Linked DNA regions of Homo sapiens: region 1 is linked to region 2. Evidence: fine-mapped expression QTL. A gene starts in region 2. The other region holds a variant in brackets. All regions are shown on one strand. Distances are from middle to middle. Region 1 overlaps RGS9 (regulator of G protein signaling 9). Region 2 holds the start of RGS9 (regulator of G protein signaling 9).

Region 1 (2,908 bases), 27 kb after region 2:
ATTTTTACAAAAGCAAAGAAAACCAATAAAAGTGAGGCTTCTTGTGAAAGTGTTTTGAGAATTCAGCTGCTCCTTGAGTGAACACCATGGTAAAACCAGCTTAGATACCATCGGGCTGGGTCCATGGTTGCCATGAGCCAGGGGTGTGCCCTTGCTGACTTAGAGTTTGTTGCCCTGCGGCACATGGCATATGTCTTGGGGCTTTCTGTTCTCATTTTGTTTTTCTTCTTTAGGAAAATTACAATTTCTTGAACCAAAAAATGAACTATAAGTGGGACTTTGTCATTATGCAGGCCAAAGAGCAGTACAGGTGAGTGAAAGGAGACCATGCTTGTCCTCTCGGTGTCTTTCCTCCCTCTCTTCCTTCTTTGTTTCTTTTTATTTATTTTATTTTTTATTTTTATTTTTTTTTTGAGACAGAGTCTTGCTCTGTCGCCCAGCCTGGAGTGCAGTGGTGTGATCTCGGCTCACTGCAACCTCCGCCTCCTGGGTTCAAGCGATTCTCCTGCCTTGCCTCCCAAGTAGCTGAGATTACAGGCACCCAGCACCATGCCTGGCTAATTTTTATTTATTATTATTATTATTTGTATTTTTAGTAGAGACGGGGTTTCACCATGTTGGCCAGGCTGGTCTCAAACTCCTGACCTCGTGATCAGCCTGCCTCAGTCTCCCAAAGTGCTGGGATTACAGGCGTGAACCACTGCGCCTGGACTCTTTCCTTTTATTAAAATAAACTTGTTTTTGAGCATTTATGTGCCTAACACTGGGCTGCGCAGGGGGAATCAAAAGACACAGTCTCATAGGTCAGGCAGATGAAAGAATAGGCTATGGTGCTGCTGTGAGATGAGGGCCACCTGGCTGGGGTTTTCAGAAGGAATCGTAGAAATGGCATTGAACCTGGGGAATGCATAGGAGGGGTCCAGGTGAAGGATAGCAGTTGTGGAGGAAGAGGAGAGGTGTGGTGAGAGGAAGGGGCTCTCAGCAGGCAGAACCAGAGGCTGGAGGCAGGAGTGTGCCCACTGCAAGCAGTTCCTTGCAGCTGCATCTGAGAGTGCAAAGTATGGAATTAGGAAGATGTGAACTAGAGATGTTAGCAAGAGTGGATCGTGAGAGGGCTTTGTGGTGAGGGCCATAGGGAGCCATAGAATGATGTTTAAGCAGGGAAGGGATACACAGTGATCAGATTGTCATGTTAGAACCACGCCTCGTTCACTTGCATTTGCCTGTTGCCATATCAGAACTGGAACTGGAAGTCCCCTCCAGGGCTCTGCCTTAA[C/A]AAGAGCTGGATGCAGATATTGGGGACAGGGAGTGGTAGGGAGAGGGTGTGGTCAGGACAAGGTTAGCCTATCATTACAAACAGCCCCCAACTCTCAGGGGCTGGAAACCACAAGGTCCATTTCTTGCTGGTGCTCCTCATCCACCGTGGGGCAGCTGGGGCCCTGACATGCTTTCCCCACTTCCAGGACCCATATGCAGAAGAAGCAGCACCATCTGGGCTTTGTGCGTTGCTTAGCAGGGACAGGGATTTCCTGTGTGTATCAGAGCAGCCCTGTCATCCTGCTCATGAGTCACTAGGCAAAGCAGGTCAACGTCAAAGGTTGGTGGGTGGGGACATAGAATCCTACTAGGTGCCTGAGAAGAGGGACAGCTGGGAACATCTGGTGACCCGCACCAGTGATTACCAAAACCGATGATCCCCCCAGTCCAGCCTCACTCGCTGTGACAGTCCCAGATCCAGGAAGGTCTAGACTTGCTGGTGCTCAGCTGGGCTGGATGGGGAAGACCTGATTCTCACCCAGCAGCCTAGGTATTGGAGTAGTGATGAACACTGTTTATGGGAGAGCTGGTCCGGGAAAAATAGATTCTTATGGCGGAACAGCTTTATTGCCCTCCAGGGGGGAAAATATGTTCTTAGGGTTTAGAATCAGGTAGAACATCAGTGAGAGAGCTGCCACTGCTCATTAGCCACAAACATGTTTCTACCTGGGTACATTTGAGGCGAAACAACACGGGTTATCTTTAATCACTTATATTTGTTCATAAGGCTTCATTTGGTGAGTTTCTGGGTACTGTCTCACTTTATGTTGGTGTGGGGAAATACTTACCATAGTAATTATTGTCACCCTTCATTTCTACAAATGGGGAGACTGAGACTTAGGGAGGTGAAAATTACTTAGCTGAAGTCACTTGGTGAGATAATGGTAGATCTTAGGCTGATATTACTTAATTCCATTTGTTGCACCAGTTTTGAGTTTCTGATGGGTTCCAGCACTGGGCTGGGCTCCAGGGACACAGAGATGGGTAAGATGTGCCCCTCTCCCTCAACCCCTCCATCCCTTCTTCCTCCTGTCTGCTCTGAGCAGGACTATCCCAGCAACCCACAGGACTATGAACCCTGACATCTGCTTTCTTGGGCGCTCTGGGTGCTCTTGAAGCTTGGAGCTGTTCTCAGTGATCCCTGCAGGTCCACCACCAAGGCCTTGGACTCAGCTGCGATAAAGCTCTGTGCTGCCCAGGTCCTGGGACATTCCCCTCTTTCATTCTTCCAGGTGCCTTGGAATGAGCGATTCCTAAAAGGCTTGCTCCATTTGAGATGGCTTTTTCCCACTTATTTTATGGCTTAAAGGCTGCCTCTGATTTCAGATTTAGGGTCTCAGCACAAAACGTGGTTGACCATGTAGGTTGGCCCATAAAGTAGTCATTTTGTTATGCTGAGTCCTGTCTTCCAAGTTCCACACTCAGCACCCAGACAGCTACTCAAGATCTCATGTTGCTGTCAAACCTCAAACTTACCTTGTCCATATTCAAATATGTCTTTCCCTCACTCTCCAAACCTCTTCCTCCAGTATCACCCATATCAGTACCTCTACTGCCCCTACCCTGGTTGAACCAAACTCACCGTCACCTG
Region 2 (2,908 bases):
GTCTCACTCTGTCACCCAGGCTGGAATGCAGTGGCTCAGTCTTGGCTCACTGCAGCCTCTGGGTTCAAGTGATTCTTGTGCCTCAGCCTCCTGAGTAGCTGGGATTACAGGTTGCTCCACCATGCTGATTGATTTCTGTATTTTTAATAGAGATAGGGTTTTGCCATGTTGGCCAGGCTGGTCTTGAACTCCTGACTTCAAGTGATTCACCCGCTTGGGCCTCCCAAAGTGCTGGAATTATAGGCGTGAGCCATCACACCCAGCCAAGAACCACTGCTTTAAAGGGACATTGGTTGACTGTGCCTTCCTAAGGTAAAGGCCTTCTTGTTTTCTTCCAACTTAAACATTTTATCTGCTACACTCAATAACCATCGAGTATGTTTAAGAGAAAGTGCTTTATATAACAAAGCAGAAAGGCTCTTGATAATAACTTAGAGGCTTCATCCTTGCATTTTTCTCAAGATGAAAACGCTAACATAATGAGCTGTCAAGGTAGGTTCATCAATTGTAACAAATGGGCCACTCCAGTGGAGGATGTTGATCATGGGGGACGCTGTGCGTGCGTGGGGAGAGGGGATATATGACGTGTCCCTATACCTTCCGCTCAATTGTGCTGTGAACCTAAAACTGCTCTAAGAAATAAAGTCTATTAAAACAAGCAAACCAGCCAGCTGCAGTGGCTCACTCCTGTAATTCCAGCACTTTGGGAGGCCGAGGTGGGTAGATCGATTGAGCCCAGGAGTTTGTGAAACTCCCTCTCCACAAACAATTTTTGTAAAAATTAGCGGGGTGTGGTGGCACGTGCCTGTAGCCCCAGCTACTGGGGAGGCTGAGGTGGGAGGATTGTTTGAGCCTGGGAGGTTGTAGCTGCAATGAGCCATGATTACGCCACTGCACTCCAGCCTGGGTGACAGAGCAAGACCCTGTCTCAAAAAAAAAGTTAAACAACAACAAACCCAACAACCAACTAACCGAAACACTAAGAATCAGAGAAGTAAAATATAATTCGCTTCATCCAGACAGCTAGCCCGGTGAGGACTACAACCTTCCTCTCTTCCTTCTTCACTTCTTTGCTCTCTCTTTTTAAACCCACATCTTAGCAATTCCTCTGCTATTGGGTCATTAAATCGCCACCTCTAATTTTTTTTTCTAAGCATTTATTGAGGGCCAAGCACTGTGTTACACATCTCCTCATTAAAATGGTATAGCAACCTTTTCTGGTCGATATTATGATCCCATTTTTCAATTTTTACTTTTGAGTGAAGGACATTGATTCTTAGAGATTGTAAGGAACTTGCCCAAGGCTGCCGGCTGGTTAGTGGCAGAGCTGGGATGGGAAAGTCCGTATTTTCCACCGCGCTGTATTAGTGAGGGCTCTTTGTGTCACTTCTGTGCATAACTCCGCCCCAAGTTAAAAGGCTCGCTGCTCTCGACAGGTCCTCCTCCTCCTCCCGCTAGGTCCTCCTCCTCCTCCCGCCAGGTCCTCCTCCTCCTTCTCCTCCCGGGGCCCTGCCCTGCGGGTCTCACCTGCTGCTCCGCGGGGTCCCGGCGGGGGCCGGATAGCGCCCCCTGGCGGCAGGTGGGCGCCCGCGCAGCGCATGCTAATGAGCCCGCGGCGCCGCTCGCGGATTGGCTGGCGCGGATTCCAGCTGCTTTCCAAGTCAGCGGCGCCTAGTGAGAGTCAGGGGGGCCCGGCCCGCGCCCTCCCCGCCCAGCCGCCTCCCCGTCGACGCCCAGGGCTGGGGCGAGCCAGGCTGCCTTTCGAACTTGGGGGGCTTCTCCTCTTGTCTCCCACTGGTGCTCTGGCTGTGAATCCATCCAGGGGCCAGGATGACAATCCGACACCAAGGCCAGCAGTACAGGCCGAGGATGGCATTTCTCCAAAAGGTAACCCTGGCCCCTCACCTGGACCCTGGGAGGAGGGCGGGGGACCGCATCTGCGAAGCGTCCGAGGACAAGAGGGGCAGGAGTGGAGAGCACCCCTTTGGGTCGATTTGTGCTGCTCGATTTTATTAAGTGACTTCTTTGCTGTGTGTGTCGATATTGATGGCTATAATAATTAGGTTTTCGTGTGCCCTGCCTGTAGTGGAGAATCTGAAGCCAGCGCTGATGGTCTGCGGGAGGTGAAAACAACCTGTTACTCGGGAGAGGCAGGTTCAGTTCAGGCTGTGGCAGATTTGAGACAGCCTGCTGATATTGTTGTAAGACGACCAGATGTGACATTGCCATTTTTGCCTTTTTTTTCTGATCCCAAACTGCACTATTTTAAAGTGTGTGTGTGTGTACACATAGACCATGAAAACGGGGTGATTTGTAGGATAAAGGGCCACCCCATTTACAATGCCCTGAGAGCCCTCATTTGAGTGTGTCTATCTGTGCATCTCCTGCTGTCTGCGCTGGCGGCAGAAGTCCCAACCTTTTCGCTTCCCTTGCGAATGCTTTCCCAGACAAAGTGACCGGGCACAGGGTGTGCACACAGGATGGACATGTGGGAGGTGGAATGCACCTGTGGGGTGATGTGTTTGGGGACAAAGTGGTTCATTTAGTTCTGAGCTTCTGGTATAATCACTGTCCGATGAGATCTACAGAGGATTAGGTCCCGGGTCACATCTTTGTCCTTCCTCCCACCCGTAGCCACTTTTCACAGCGTAGTGTCCATCTTCTTAGGCTTATCTTGTTGAGTAGAATTAGTTGAATGTTTTGTGACAAGCTGAGCTCTCCCTGAGCCCCTGGAGCTCAGCAAATTTGTATAGTCAGTGACCGCTGTCCTGATTTGCCCAGGACTTTCAATGCTAAAACCTGGACAGTCCTGGGGACCCCGAGACGGTCGCATTTGGTCCACCTGTTTCAAGATGCTCGTGCTCATCTTCCGGGTAGCAGAGGTGTGGGTATCATCTGTAAAGCAGAC

The links. PIP is the estimated chance that this variant, and not a neighbour inherited with it, causes the effect.
Region 1: its variant is fine-mapped to the expression of RGS9 in unexposed skin (GTEx, PIP 0.98).

Annotation. Positions count from the first base shown.
Region 1 is chr17:65,162,780-65,165,687 of GRCh38, forward strand. RGS9 (regulator of G protein signaling 9) reads left to right here. Exons shown (of 19, transcript NM_003835.4): 7 at 234-310. Among named protein-coding and RNA genes, the nearest start is that of RGS9, 27 kb to the left of the region's middle. RefSeq lists enhancers at 1,136-1,335, 2,365-2,908 and a silencer at 1,626-1,685. The variant C/A (reference allele first, on the strand shown) is at 1,277.
Region 2 is chr17:65,135,711-65,138,618 of GRCh38, forward strand. It overlaps RGS9 (regulator of G protein signaling 9), which reads left to right and starts at 1,660. Exons shown (of 19, transcript NM_003835.4): 1 at 1,660-1,887. The coding sequence starts at 1,831. RefSeq lists a silencer at 1,350-1,849.